Linked DNA regions of Homo sapiens: region 1 is linked to region 2. The links come from fine-mapping of genetic effects on gene expression. Tissue or cell type: lung. Region 2 holds a variant in brackets; the other region holds the start of a gene. All regions are shown on one strand. Distances are from middle to middle.

What was found. PIP is the estimated chance that this variant, and not a neighbour inherited with it, causes the effect.
Region 1: PRPS2 starts here. The variant in region 2 is fine-mapped to the expression of PRPS2 in lung (TOPMed, PIP 0.99).

Annotation. Positions count from the first base shown.
Region 1 is chrX:12,787,521-12,795,706 of GRCh38, forward strand. It overlaps PRPS2 (phosphoribosyl pyrophosphate synthetase 2), which reads left to right and starts at 3,892. Exons shown (of 7, transcript NM_002765.5): 1 at 3,892-4,099. The coding sequence starts at 3,978. RefSeq lists a silencer at 4,148-4,597.
Region 2 is chrX:12,821,914-12,830,099 of GRCh38, forward strand. PRPS2 (phosphoribosyl pyrophosphate synthetase 2) reads left to right here. Exons shown (of 7, transcript NM_002765.5): 7 at 791-2,309. The coding sequence ends at 883. It also overlaps the pseudogene PSMA6P2. Among named protein-coding and RNA genes, the nearest start is that of PRPS2, 35 kb to the left of the region's middle. The variant C/T (reference allele first, on the strand shown) is at 3,236.

The DNA.
Region 1 (8,186 bases), 34 kb before region 2:
GACAGCTACAAAATCTAGGTGGTGGGTATATCGGTGTTCACTCTATTTTCATCTCGGTTTTTGGATTTTTCTTTAAACAACAGAAGTAAAAGGTAAAGTTCTAGAAATAAAAATCAGAAAAATTACTTGATTCTGAGTGAAAATGTTATTAATAGAGAATTAAAGTTGAATCTATTTTAACTTATTTTTAAAGTACATTGCTTATAAATGTTAGCATTTCATAATAAGTTATAAATTATTTGCCACACCCCTAATAAAAACATACAAGAAAAAGGTTATGTCAGAGTGTCTTGGCATTGCTCTTAGGAACTAGTGTTCTAGAACTTCTTGTTCTAATACAGCAACTATCAGCCACATGTGGCTGATGAGCACTTCAGATATGGCAAGTCCAAATTAAGATGTGCTGTAAGCGTAAAATCTATATTGGATTTTGAAGGCTTGACACAAAAAGATGCAAAGTAGCTCATTAATATGTTTTATGTTGATTACATGTTGGAATGATAATATTTTGGATATTGGATTAAAGTGTATTATTAAAATTACCTTCACTTGTTTTTTATATTCTTTTAAAATACAGCTACTAAAGTGTAAATTACATATGTGGCTTGCATTATATTTCTTTTTAAAAAGTTTAAAATTTTTTCATAGAAACATATAGGAAACAATCATTACATTTCTTTTGGATGGTACCATTCTAGAGAGAAAAGGACTGGACTAGAAGATCCACATTCTAATTCCTTTGCTGCTTTCAACTAGCCATGTGACTTGGGGAAATTTCTTCCGTTTCTCAGCCCTAAAATAGTCAGGGATAAATTCACTCAGCAAATACTTAGACTTCTTACTATATACAAAGAACTTGGCTAGATGATGTGGGAAATAGAAGACGTGAAACTGTTCATAAATTCAAATCATTGTTTTACCGTTAATCTCTATCCATGAGTCAATGAAGATAGAAATCAACAATAGAAAATATCTCATCATTTTAATTTTTTCCACTAACATTTTATCTTAAGATAATGTATATTTTATAAACGGTCTGAGACCCAGATCACATATGCACAGAGTATATGTTCTTTTTCTCTTCTAAGTCTTGGGTCTTTGAACAAGTGTTCCATTTTTCCAGAGGCTCCCCAACTTCAAATGTTGTTCAAGAAGTGCACTGTGGTAGACAGTTGGTGGACAGTACTCATGCCCTCCAGTTGTCCCATACCATGTTGACAGCTGGTCTTGGCCATGTAACTTGCTTTGGTCAATGAGACATTAGCAAGCAAGTTAAAAACAGAGGTTTGATAAGCACTTGCTCATTGAGACTTATCTTCTTGGAACACTCCTTGGAACCTTGCAGCCATGCCGTAAGGAAGCCCAAACAACCATGAAGAAAGGCCCACATGGAGGAGAGAAGGGCCAGGGGTTCTTTCAAACTAGTGATTCTCAACCTGTGGTGATTTTGCTCCTTGTAGGACATTTGGCAATGTCTGGGGACACTTTTGGTTGTCACAGTGGTGGATAGGTGCTACTGGCATCTAGTGGGTAGAGGCAAGGGAGGCTGCTAAACAATCTGCAATGCACAGGACAGTCCCACAACAAAGAATTACCCAGCCTAAATATCAGCTGTGCTGAGGTTCAGAAACCTGCTCTAGACCAATGTTTCCCACAACCTGGCTCCTATGGATCAAGGATAAAGGCATTTGGGAGAGAAAGTTTTCACACTTAAATAAAATTATCTGTAGCTGCTCATTTACAAGTGACAGCTTTCTGAACAGTCTGTGACTCATGATGATTTTTCAATGATTCCCATTAGTATTCTCATCAACCCCAATGGCACATTTCACCTTGTTTACATTTAGCATTTAAGCAGAGTAACTCATCAAACTATTGAACCAACAATCATTGTATTAGTTGCCCCAACTGAGATATTGTTTCTCCTTGGTGCTATCAAGTCCATGGTTTGTCACAATTCAATCCGAGCTTCCAAATCTGCAGCCATTTACCCACCCAAAGACCAGGGGCTTTAACTTTTACTGTTTTATAGTCCATCAGCTTTGGTTCTGTGTTACCAAAGAACCACAGCCCCATCATGCTAAGAGGATGCCACTTTCCCTTTGAGAAGAGCATCTATATATTTAGAAGAAACCATTATTAGTCAATTTTATCTATGAGAGAAATATTAAGAATATAAAAATTATAGTAATTTGCTGATAGTAAATTTTATTAGAAGAGTTTAAATATAACTACATTAGCAGACTCAATAAAAATTTTAAACATAGTGGGTCAAGTATAAATCTCATTGCTATGGTAATTAGCTGTGAAATACATAGATAATAAACCATTGCAGATAGGGGTTTTTGTTTGTTTTCTCACATAATAGGGCACATATGCATCTCTAGGCGGAATGAAAAAGGGCCAGAAATGCTGCTAAAATTGTCAGTTTGAATAACTTTTTGATAGGCTGGCAGATACAAAAGTTTACAAGAAACACTCGATGTGCCAAGTAATCTCCTTGCAAAGTACAAGGACCCAGATGAAAAATCCCAATGATGCGAATCATCCCTGTAATCTCCCAAATCCCATTATGAAGTCTGATTAGAGTAGGCTACAACCCAATTGCAAGTGGGCTTTGCTGTTGATGGAGAGCCAATTCGTGGCAAACATTAGTAAAACCAAGCCATTTATCTACCCGGTTGAATCAGCCTTTGTTGAGGAGTGTGAAACTGTGACCAGCATCACCAACCAGCCCTCTATAGACAGGGACTGCTTTCCTTTCTCCTACACTTGGTTTGTGCCCTGAAGTTGGCTCTGGTACTGCATTGGCATCTTGAGAAAACCTTTTTGCTGGTTTCTAGCAGGAAAGAGAGGAAGGAGGCCCTGACTCCAGGGATGTGGAGGGACTGAGCTGGATTGTCTAGGGAGATCTGTGTTCCTGGGATCAGGCCCTTGAGCACCCAACAGGCAGAAGGTTGTGAAGTGCCCCAAGGACCATCACATCTACCGAAAAATGGTGAATCTGGGGGACTTGGTTTGATCCAGTGAGCCACCAAGAGCAATACTTCCCCTCAGCCTGTGATGAGGACTCACATAGTGGTTGGATTTTTTAAGGACACATGGTGCAGGGGCAACTCTGTAGTTCAGGGGTCATCAAGTTTGAACTATGAGGGACCACATGGCCAATATTTACATTTTGCAGACCAAGCAAGAAAAGGGAAGATATTACGTAGGAACTTACATAACAAGAGAGAAAAAATTGTCACAATGTTTTTATTGATATAATCCAAAATACGGTAATATTTGAGTACAATTATTTGCAACTCACATCTATTAATGAGAGAAAAGGAATTCTTTTGCGGGGGGGATATTTCTCTTAATTGGAGTTCAAAGGCGGTGTCTGCTATCATCACATAAAGTGCAAATGTTCATGTATGAAAACCATGCTTAGCTCTCTGGTACAAACACAGGGAGCTCTCGCGATCTGGCCCATAGGCTGTAGTTTGCAGACCCTTGCTATAGCTGAACACCAGTCGCCCACACTGGGTTTGCGGTGTTCCGGGGTGGGAAGTCGCTCCGGGCTGCGAAGCACCTCGAGGGATCCCCCCGGCCCGAACTCTCCCTCTGTGCCCAGCTAACCGCGGTTCATTGGCTCTCCCCGCGAGGCAGGTCTGGAAGATCAAGAATGAAGCTCGGAGCTCTCTCGCGGAGCAAGGACACCTTCGGGCTTCAGGACCACCCAGGGCGTCCAAAACTGCTGCCAGGGCTGTGCCCCCGCCCCCCGGCACTTTCCAGCTCCCCCTCCACGCCCGCTCTTCCTCCCTCTCTGCCCCCTCTAGCTCCTCCTCCGGCTCCTCCCCCTCCGCTCCTCCCCTTCCCTACATCTAGCCGCCGCGCTTTCCCGCTCCCGCAGCAGCAGCCTCCCGCGTCGCTGTCGCTGTTGCCTCCGCCACCTCCTCCGCCGCCGCGCGCCCCTCGGAGTTCCGCGCCCCACCATGCCCAACATCGTGCTGTTCAGCGGCAGCTCGCATCAGGACCTGTCCCAGCGCGTGGCCGACCGCCTGGGCCTGGAGCTGGGCAAGGTGGTCACGAAGAAGTTCAGCAACCAGGAGACCAGGTGGGGGCCGCGCCGGCGGCCGGGCTAGGGAGAGCGCTGGGCACGCGGCTGCGGGGCCGGGTTGGGGGCCGGCGCCTGCCCGGGCCACCTCCGCGGACGCCGCGCTCCCCCTTCCGGGGCGGGACGGTGGCAACGCGGCCTCCGCGCCCCCGCGCCCGCGCCTGCGAAGAAACCGAGGCGGGGCGCCGCGCGTCCCGATGCGCGCCTCGGCTGTGCCCCCGGTTGCAGGGCCTCCGGTCCTGGGACCGCGGCGACCCGGCGGTCCCGAGCCGCTCCCGGCCTCCCAGCGGTGCCGCCCGGCCTGGCGTCCCCAGCCCGGAAGGGAGACGTCTGGGCGGTCACAGACCGTCGGGGAGAGAGTGGGCGCAGCGGGCGGGAACCGCATCGGGTCAGCGCGCGGTGGAGAGACGTCCTGGGTTGGCTGGTCCCAGTTTCCGCGTCCCTACAAAGCTGAACCTCAGACCAGTGCGTGCGACTAAAGGTTTCCCCCCGTCCCCAACTCTGGTTGCACGCTGGGTTTACCTGGGGACGGTCCGAACGCTGCTTCCCCCGACCTGCCCCCAAGGGTTTGATCCAACGGGCGGAGGATCAGCGATTTTACAAGCTTCCCTGGCTTCTCCTGAGCAGCCAGGGCGCAGACCACTGCGTTATCCAGAGGGTGCAGTTGTGCCAAGGTTTGAAAGACTGTGAGAACCCCAGGACGCACGTGCTGGGCTCCCCTCTGCTCCCACTACTCTTGCTGCTTTAAAGATGATGGACTTTCAGCTTCCTTCTTGTTCTAGGACTCTGCTGTGTCCAGCAACAACGCCGTGATTCGACTGTAACTTTCACCCATTTCTCAAGTCCAGGAGAGCCTCAGGTGGTGGCCATCCTCGGAAGCTGACCTGGGGGGCTCCTTTGTCTATCTGCCTGAGTCCACACAGCTCCTTGACTCATTTCAAATTGGTCTCATTTTTCCCCCTTCTTCCTCCAATGTCTAGTACCGTTAACTGTCCACAGTTACTGATAATTTTTATATCTTTGGCAAAGGTTCAATTTTACCAACATTTTCTAGAAATGGTGTTGGAACAGTTGGACACCCATATGCCAAAAAATATGAACTTCCATCCATACTTTTCACCATTTGTAAAAATTAACTTTGAAGTGGATCATAGACCTAATTGTAAAATCTAGAACTATAAAATTTCTAGCAGAAAATCTTGACTTGGGGTTAGGCAAAAATTTCTTAAGGAGGAGTTATGTTAATACTGATGGGGAAGATGCTATATTTTGGCAAGTCAGCTTTTTAGGATATGTGAATCTTACGTGACTTCTTCCAGGTGGCAAATTCCAGTTATGGCTCCGATGATAATATAAGCGAAGAAACATTGTGAATGAGTGGCAGGTGGACTTTGGCTAAAGAATTCCACTCTGCAGTGTTTAATGCAGAAGTCTGAGAGGATGGTCTAGGGCTCTGGAGAAGGATAGAGCTAGGTTTGAGTGTTGCAGTATTTTGCCAGTCTTGTTCAAGTTTCAGTCGCTGTAAGAACACGAGAAGAAGAATAGTTTTTGTTCAGAAGGTGTCGTCATATAAGTAAAGGAGAAATTTGTTGATGAAGTAAATTTTGAAAGCAAATATGTTGCCCTTCCAGGTACTCAGTGCAGCATGATCTTTTGCTAAGGAGCATGGTTAATCTAGATCAGTTCACTGCTAAGTCAGTGTTGAGTTTCTCCTAAAAATACCACATGTGCCACTGGGCAAAACTCACTCAGACACTGAAGTATGATTGTTTATACATTTGGTTCAAATATAAAGCAGACTCACTTTTATTTTGTTTTTGGCATTTTATAACCATCACTTGATAATTAGAAATCGTGGGACCTCAAAAACCACTCAGCATGAAGTTTGGGAATTGCCTATATAGCTACATTTTATGTTTTTAATGTATAGAGTATAAAAGGTTCACTGCCTGACTTTTCTCTTTTCCATGAACTGTACAAGTACAGAGCTTAATTTTTATAAACAGCCCTCTCTGGACCAGTTACTGTGCTAGGAATCCAGCTTTTAGCTGTGTAATCGTAGAGAGGAAAAACTGAAGGGCAAAATGAAGACAAAATTGATTCAGTTCATGTAAGGGCCCCTTCTTGAATCTGTCACTGAACTAGGATCAGAAATCTGGTTTGCTGTCTCCTGGCCATCAATCCTCCCATTTTGCGTTTTTTATATGCTACTTTACTGAACATAGAGCCTTCCAATTTTACCTTCTTATCCCTAAATCATTTCAGATATGCAGGGAGAGGTCCGCTCCAGCTTCACTATAGACCATGGAAATTCCATGATGACATCTTAGGACAGCAGGTGTCTAGATGTCTCTGTTGTAACATTTTACTATGGTCAGTTAACCTGCTGGCAGAATCTTTAGCTATACTGTGAGACAAGGTTATGCAAAGTTATACAAGGTTATCGGTTACCATGTAATAAATAAAGAGCTTAATGGCTTAAAACAGTAATTGTTGATTTGGCTTACAAATCTGCAATTTGGGAAGGGCTCAGTGAAGAAAGCTTGTTTTTGCCGCGTATGGTCACAGCTGAGGCTGGTCACAGCTGAGGCGGCTAACTGGGGCTGGAGGGTTCTTGAAGATGGCTCACATGACTGAAGTTGTTACTAGCTTTTGCCTGGGAGCTTGGTTAGGAACCTCAGCTCCTCTTCTTGTAGGCCTCTCCATGGGGCTGCTTGAGCTTCCTTACAGCATGGAAGCTGGGTTCTAAGAGCACATGTTCCAAAAGACAGGACATTGAAGCCACCAGTCCATTAAGGACTGGGCTTGCAAGTTGGTGTATCATAATTTCTGTCATATGCTGTTGGGCAAGTACAGAGCCCTCTCAGATTCAAGGGCGGGAGACTAGACCCTGCTCCTTGATGGGAAATGTGTTAAGAGTCTGTGGCTATCTTTTAGTTACCATGCCCGTTTATTGTTGAGTCAGTGACGCTCTTCAGCGTTTTTATTTGGGGGTCAATAAAGATCCTCTGGCAGAATGGCAAATGGATGCTGCCTTCTAGCCACAATTTTTTAAAGACCTAGAATAAAGGTAGTCATGATCATCTTTTTGAGTAGAAGCAGGACTAGCTTTAGGGGAAAAGTTGCCATGGTGATGATATTCTCTGTCCTCCCCTGGACTGCTAGTCATATGAGAACTGAGGTTCCTGAGTAAAAACAGGCCAAAGAATCTAATCTTGTGGGATAAACGTCATAAGACCAGGAGTTGGCAAAGTTTTTCTGCAAAGGGCCAAATCGTAAATATTTTAGGCAGTGCTAGCACATGTAGTCTCTGTTGCTGCGGTATCTTACAGTTCTGTAAGTTACGGTAATGTCTGTCACAGGTTAGCAGGGCTGTATTCTCTTCTGAGGCTCTAGGGGAGAATCTGTTCCCGTGCCTTTTCCGGTTTCCAGAGGCAGCCCACATTCCTTCACTATTGGCCTCTTCACCTTCAATGTCAGCAACAAAATGTTGCTCTGACCCTGCTTCTGCTGTCTCCCTCTTGCATTTTTAAGGGCCCCATGATTACAATGGGCCAATTTAAATAATCCAGGATAATTTCCCCATGTTAAGGTCAGCTGATGAGCAACCTGAATGCTATCTGCAAATTTACTTCCCCTTTGCCATATAAACTCACATATTCAAAGGATTAGGATGTAGACATCTTTAGGGGGCCATTATTCTGCCTACCACGCCATTCTTAACTCACAGGCCATAGAAAAACAGCCTATGTGCTGTGTTTTGTCAACCTCTCAGCTATATAATACTGTACTTGATTTCTGCTGTAGTTCATTTTGTGCTGCTATAACAGAATACCAGAGACTGGCTAATTTATAAACAATAGAAATTTGTTTCTCACAGGTCTGGAGGCTGGGAAGTCCAATACTGAGGGGCTGGCATCTGGCAAGGGCTTTCTTGCTGCATCATCCCATGGCAGAAGGGTGGAAGGGCAAGAGAGCATATTTGAGAGAGAGCAATAGAGGGCCAAATTTGCTAATATAATAAACCCATTCTCAAGATAATGAGCACACTCTAGCAATGATGACGTTAATCCGTTTGTGAGGACAG
Region 2 (8,186 bases):
TTTCATTGCTCCAAAGCCTCGGCTCCCATCAGCGTAGCATGAAGGTGCATCACAGTGATCTGCTTCATGATTTCTGATTCCTCAGAGAGAAAAGCAATTTGCTTGACACAAAGCAGTAAGTCTGGAAATGGTCAGGATAGCGATGTCATATATTTTCATGCCTGATTAGCAGTAGTTTAGGATGGGAGTTGGCACACTATGGCTCGCAAGTGAAATCCAGCCTGTCATCTGTTTCTGCAAATTTTTATCAGAGCACAGCCACGTCCATTCATATATGTATTGCCCGTGGCTGCTTTCACGCTACAATGGGCAAGTTGAGTATTTGTGACAGAGACCCTCTGGCTTCCAAGGTCAAATATGTTAACTATTTGGTCCTCTATAGTTTGCTGACCCCTGAGTTAGATGATCACAGTTGTGCTCTTAAATGACGCAGTCACCGCCTTTTCAGAAACAGAAAGAAAAACCTTCCGTATAATGATTAAACTTAATTTAAAACAACAAATGCCCCTGGAAAAGGATGTCTCTGGTTAACAGTATCCCTGAAAAGCCTTCTGTCTCTGCATTGAAAATCTCCCTTCCAGGATCCCATATGGGTCTGGTTCAACGGGTTGTAATTTGAAGACATACCCCAAAGCTGTCTGTCCTCTCAAAAGTGTCGGAAGTTTTGATAGCAACACATCATGTATGCTGCAGAAATTGTTTCTCAGCTTTCCAGCTTTTCAATGTTTAAAGAACTCTAACTAAGATGTCCTGCTTCCCTTCTCCCTTTGTTTTTCTCATTGGCATTTAGGTCATTGACATTTCCATGATCTTGGCCGAAGCAATCCGAAGGACACACAATGGGGAATCCGTGTCCTACCTGTTCAGCCATGTCCCGCTATAAATCCAGAATGGGAAGTGTCCAGCAAGCCTACTCTGACTTCTGACTTGTTTTTGTTTTCTGGATTTTTAGCTGTAGGTATTCAGCAATGATAGGTTAATCACTGGCAAAAGCATCAGATCTTTGTATATGCTAAGATTTATTGTTTCCCCTTCTAAAGCTCAAGATCATTTCTTTCCAGTTTTTGGGGAAATGGTGGTGGTTATTTGGTCTTTAAGTGAACTGTCTTAAATGAGAAACGTTTTTGTCATTTTGACTTTTAACAGGTACAGGTGATCTCTTCCTTTGTTCTTTCAGTACTTTGAGGCGACAACTTTCAAGTATATAATTTCATTGTGGAAGTCATAGTTTATATATTTCGAGGTTGCCAAAGGTGACTTCAGATTAAAGCCTTCTGTGTAAATATATACTGATAATGCCTATGGACATTTGGGTAAAACCCTGTATAGAATTAATTATCCTTTTACTTTGGAGTGAACCTTGGAAAATTTATAATTATAATACCATGGATTTTGAATTTTCCTTTTTTTTTTTTTTTTGGATAACTCAGTTTCAGATAAACCATCTTGGTTACTGTGCTTAATTTGGACCAAATTTTATTTAGCTTAATATGGACACTGACACATTTTGGGGGGTATACATTAGACATATCAGAGCAGTGTATTTCTGGATCATTTTTTAAATGACCTCTTCTAAAACATAACTGTCACTTACCTGAAATGCTGCATCCTAAAATTCCAAAATTATATTGAGCAATCGCCAAGGCCTAAAGCCAACTGACTTAAAGGTAATCATTTCAGCTAAGATTAAATTTAAAGCCTAAGAATGTATAGAGCTAGTTTTAAAATAATGATCTCAGATTTTTAAAAAGGATATAGGAACCTGCATTGTCATTCTCTGAATTAAGAACTGATGGTTTCTATCATTATTTAGCCCCACCTTTGTATTTTAAAATCCTTCAGAATACATTTATGAACCAATGCGACTGGACTTAGCCACACACAATGGAAATTCAGACCTTGACTATTTGGTGTTTCCAGTTCACAAAGGTGATGAAGACTGTCTTGGGAGCAGCTTAATCCCAAAATTTGTACATTTCTTGCTGCTCCTGGCGTGGAAACTTAAGTGAGACCACCAAATACATTGGTCCTGTCCAATTCTACTGAATGGGGGTGGACCTGGCATTTATCTGGCCAAAAACAGGAGCCAGAGAAATATGAATATACCAAAGTTGTTTGTTTAGCCTCCAACTTAAATTACATTAGTCAACTTATAGATACTCATATGATCACTTTTCTTTTTAGATACTACATCAACTAGATTCAGGAGTATATCATTTGCAGTGCTTGTATTGGTTTAAAATGTAAGATTTTAAGATCCTCTAACACTGTACTAAAACATTTCAATAAAATCATTCTGACTGCGTTCATAGTTTGTATGTATCATTGTGGAGTAATATGTTTTGACGGAGTGATGTGTTGCAGTACCTGAAAATGTTTGCTACTTTACGATTATAGGCCAGCATACAAAATTACAGAAAAGCCAGAAGTTAATTGATGTCAGCTGTTTTCCATTTTGAAGGTGTTTCTTCCTGAAGAACTTACCAGCAATCGCCTTTCCTCAAAGCGTAACAGCTGTGCCACATAAGGTGTCCACGTTGTTAATTCCACATGTTTCCTATAAAATTAAAGATGGTACAGTGTGTTCACGCATCAGAGTAGTGATGTTCAATATCCATCTATTGGAGCAAACCAAACTTAAATGTAGGCTGCATAAAACTTGTTCATATTCATTGATTTCAGAAGCACCGAGGAGGATTCCTGTCCCCATAGAACAGCCTGTTCAGTGATACTTCAAACTACTCTCGTGAGCGCAAAGTCAAGTCATAATTACGTTCCCCTGGTGAAGCTCAGCTGTAAAGTATGTGTAACACTAAGAATGGCAACATGGTGTCTTGAAGTCACAGTGAAATATGAAGAATTACATCCAGGTCCATCTGAGAAAAAAGGTGATCACAGTGTGAGAGAACATGATAGAATGTACTAGAAAGGAGGGAAGTGAAGGAGAAGTGAAAGCCAAAGACACTTCATCAGCTTTACAATTGCACTTAATAATGCTGCCACACCTCTTCAGAGACGTTTCATTTCCTATGGCATGTCCTATCTAATCCCCTAGCTGAACTACAGGGGACAGGGAAGTAGTGAAGGGAAAGATGGAGTACTAAGGCGTGCAGAGGTTGGAATCACGCTGGGGATACCAGGAAGGGCTCGGTGATCACCATTAGACGGTTCACGTCGGAATTTTCCAGAACCCTATGGTGTGTTCCAGTGTGGACTGACGCAGGACAGCAGAGGG[C/T]GTTTGGTACATGATGTGTTTGAGCAAGGATGTGCCAGGGAAGATGGGAGTTAGGGGCTGAAACATACTCAGCTATCCTGTATCTAAATTGCGTGAAATCAACAGGGCTCCTCCTTCTCATTACCAATATTTATCTTCCTGATTTATCTCCCTGTGCCCCAGGAACACATCCCTCCACCTTTTTTCTGCCCCTGCTTTCCAAGATCACATCCTGGGTGGTTTCCTTTATTGCAGTCTTTGAGCTCTGTTTCCTATTCTGAAAGCATAATGCCCAGGAACACAGACTTCACCACTTACCGGAGTTTAAAAACCAACAGCAACAACGACCTTGGGCTGGTTGCTTAACCCCTATGCCTCAGTTTCCTTACATGTGAGATGGGGATAATAAATGAGACGTTATGTGTAAAGTGTTTAGAATTGCTTGGTTTGTACATTAACTTCAGTTTTTAGAGTGAGCCTCCTGAAACTCCCCTAGAAAGAATGTAAGGTATGAAGAGGCAAGATTTTCATGCATTTTCTAGGTGTTCATCCTAGAGGGGAACAGACTGCCCTCCTGCCATTTTAGAAGGGCTACATTGTCTTGGCATGTGACTGCCTCAGTGAAGGGTAGCATTTAGGTGACAAATAGTTGCATGTTAAAAAAAAAAAAAAAAAAAAAACTTGATTATGCTGAAAGTAGTGGTTCTACCAGCATGTCCCGTGGTTCCAGCGCTGGTTTTGCCCACCACATTAACATTTTTTTCGCCCGAGGGCCAGCACTACCAAGTAGAATATGCATATGCTTTTAAGGCTATTAACCTGGGTGGCCTTCCATCAGTATTTGTCAGAGGAAAAGACTGCTGTAATTATCATACAGAAGAAATGCTTGACAAATTATCGGATTCCAGCACAGTGACTCACTTACTCAAAATAACTGAAAACATTGGCTGTCACTGTGATGACCGGAATGACAGAGGTACAGAGGGCACGCTATGGGGCAGCTAACTGGAAATACAAGTACGGCTATGAGATTCCTGTGGACATTCTGTGTGGAATTGCTGATACTACTCAGAATGCTACAATGAGGTCTCTTGGTTGTATGATTTTCATTGGTATAGATGAAGAACAAGGCCCTCAGGTGTGAAAGTATGATCCTGCAGGTTACTGCTGTGATTTAAAGCCACTGCAGCAGGAGTTAAACAAACTGAGTTAACCAGCTTCCTTGAAAAAAAAAAGTGGGCCGGGTGCGGTGGCTCACGCCTGTAATCCCAGCACTTTGGGAGGCCGAGGCGGGTGGATCACCAGGTCAGGAGATCGAGACCATCCTGGCTAACACGGTGAAACCCAGTCTCTACTAAAAGTACAAAAAATTAGCCGGGCGAGGTGGCGGGCGCCTGTAGTCCCAACTACTCTGGAGGCTGAGGCAGGAGAATGGCGTGAGCCCGGGGGGCGGAGCCTGCAGTGAGCCGAGATCGCGCCACTGCACTCCAGCCTGGGCGACAGAGCGAGACTCCGTCTCAGAAAAAAAAAAAAAAAAAAAAGTGCAAAAGAAATTTGATTGGACATTTGAACAGACAGTGGAAACTGCAATTACATGCCTGTCTACTGTTCTATCAATTGATTTCAAACCTTCAGAAATAGAAGTTGGAGTAGTGACAGTTGAAAATCCTAAAGTCGGGATTCTTACAGAAGCAGAGATTGATGCACTCACATTGTTGTTAGTTTACCAAATCCATGATGCCACTTACCTGTGTGTTTGGTAACAAAAAAAACAACATTATGGAGGTCCCTGGATTGAAAAAGGAGCCTCTCCCACTCCTCCTACTACTGAATTGATTAGGACTCTATAAATAAAAGCAATGCTTTTGGTATCTCAGCATTTTAGGAGGCCAAGGCAGGTGCATCACCTGAGATCAGGAGTTTGAGACCAGCCTGGCCAACATAGTGAAACCCCATCTCTACTAAAAAATACAAAAATTAGTCAGGCATGGTGGCGCATGCCTGTAATCCCAGCCACTTGGAGGCTGAGGCATGAGAATCACTTGAACCTGGGAGGCAGAGGTTGCAGTGAGCCATGATCACACCACTGCACTCCAGCCTGGGCAACAGAGCAAGACTGTCTCAAACAACAACAACAGCAACAACTTTCAGCTGAGTGCCGTGGTGCATTCTTGTAATCCCAGCTACACAGAAGGCTGAGGCAGTAGGATTGCTTGAGCCCAGGAATTTGAGACTGGCCTGGGCAACATAGAGAAACCCCGTCTCTTAAAAACAACAACAATACTTCCAGTGGGCTGTAGAAACAACAGGTAGGAATGAATGTCATGTGATTATAGAGATGGTAATCAATTGAGGTCATTTACAACAACCTGATTTCATTGTAGCCCTCATTCACCATCCATCCCATCATAAATACAACCAAAAGTGGTGCCCAATATAAATGGGAAGAACAGTCTTCACTATCCTAACAGCCGAGTTCTGTGGCCAAAAGAAAACCTGGCTGAATGAATTTTACATTTTAAGAGAGTGATAAAAAAAGAGAATAGGAAAGTGAAAAACATAATGCAGTGGAAAATGCCCTAAATTGGAAGTGTGGCGATCTAGATTCTGGTTCCTGATATGCTGCTAGCAAGCTGGGTGACCTTGGGAAAAATGTGTACACCACTCTGGGTATGAGCATCTTTCTGCAAAAATTAGAGGAAAGATGATTGCAGAAGTCCCCAGCAGTTTTAATAGGCAATGCCATTTATGCTAGATGTAGTTGGAATAGTTCTAACTGAAGGCACAGATGGTTGCTCTCAATAGGGTGACCAACTTGTCTTGGTTTGCGTGGGACTTTTCTCGATTTAGCCCTGAAAGACCTATATCTTAGGAAACCCCTCAGTCCTGGGCAAACCAGGACGTTTGGTCTCCCGTTCCCTCTTCTAAGGTGGATAGTTCTGCATCCCCGGCACTACCTTGGTAAGGAATCCCACGAGCATGGCTTTGATCTTGTGCTGGTTGCAAAAACAAGCAGGCTATATGATGAGCCCAACAATGTGCAGGGCACCTGTGGTATCACAGGTCTTTTAAAATCTGTTCAACTAACTATAGAAGCTCAAGAGCTGTAGTCACAAAATCAGAGAGAAAAAGCAGGGGCACCTTTAGAAAACACCTTCAAGCCTGGCTTGATTGCCAGTCCTTTGGCACAGCTACCTTTAACACCATAAGTGGTCTTCAGAGACCCCAGGGAACAGTCCAGGCAGAAGGCAGAGTGCTCTGAAGGTTACCTGATGTACGTTGTCCTTCCGCACATTGAGAGATTCTTAACATTTGTGAGGGCATGGCCATCTGTGTCTGAGGACGTATGATGCTCTGATTTTCCCTACACAAGGAGTGCTAAATCTAGTATTTTCTTGCATGGAAGCTAAGACTGACCATGAATTATGGACATATTTTAAGAACTAAAACTGAACACGTCACTCTTTAAAATCATCCTAATGATTATTTCTGGGCATATTTTGATGTACATTTACCATAGGATAAGCTCAGTATGTGCCATTGACATTTACTCACCCAAGGAACCAAGGAGCGACCCTAAATTTCTTTTCTTTTTCTTCCTTTCCTTCCTTCCTTCCTTCCTTCCTTCCTTCCTTCCTTCCTCTCTCTCTCTCTTTCTTTGTCTCTCTCTTTCCTGTTTTTTTTGAGACAGAAGGTCTCACTATATTGCTCAGGCTGGTCTTGAACTCATAGTATCAAGCAATCCTCCTGCCTCAGCCTCCAAGTAGCTGGAACTACAGGTGTGCACCACCATGCCTGGTGCAACCCTAAATTCCTTTAAGTCTCAGAAAACCTTGTATTTAGGACCAAGGCTATGGAACAGAAGAATCAAAAGAAAGATAGGCAGAGATCCCTCTCCACAGCAATGGTGATCTGACCTCGCATTAATTTCTGCACCTGGATGCATTCATAGCATTCAAAGAGCAATTCTTTCTTGAACACCGACCAAGACTCATTCCTTGTCCTAACAACAGTCAGGCTCCTCTGAATCCTCTCCTTGACCAGACCTGTCTTGGGCTTCCCTCTCTGTCATTGTGGAATTTAGTTTGAGCAAGAATCCTGTGAAGTCAGTTTATCAAAAAAACTCCTGCCCTTGGTATCTGACCACCCTCGATATCTTATCACCCAGGCTTGCCTTTAGCAAGAATTCTATTTGAGTTGATCTAGCAAGAATCCCTCCTACCCCTGATGTTTCCTTAGTGGTTTTCCATCCACGGCCCCCAACCCTGCTCGTTGCTTACAAATCCCCACTTGTCCTTGTTGGAGTCAGAGCTGAGATTAATCTCTCTCCCCCACTATAAGACCCCATTGCAGTCTGTGGTCCCTAAACCTATCACAAAGACCCCCTTGAATGAAGTCTTCCTTAGTGTCTTCAATGAATGTGATGAATAACTTTTTTTTTTAACAATACAAAATTCACAGAAAAAGTCCTATGAATTAAAAAGCACTCTGGGGAAAACCAGTTGGCGCGAGAGTTATTTTGGAAGAATCAATAATCCTCCACTGATGTGCATTGGTACAGCCATAAACACACTTTCAACCCTTGCGTTTTGGAGAGGTTTTATTACATGTACATAAATTAGGAACTTTAATACATCGGAGAAATACCACTTGCTTCTCTGTATTTTGACTCATGTGAACATCTTGGCTTAGACATATGTCAAACGGAAAATTCATATTTTTAGTCCTTCCACAGGCAAAATGAAGGAGTTGGTCTTGTTTCATTCATTCATTCATTCATTCATTCATTCATACACTCAGCAATCCCTTATGAAGCACCTATTAGTATACCATAGTGTTAGGATGCGGCTGTCATATAAGTATGAGATAAATAAAATACATGAATAAGGCTTATGTAAATCTAGCCTTCAGAGTTGACACAGGTCGTTTTTTGTTTGTTTGGTTGGTTGGTGTTTTTTTGAGATGGAGTTTC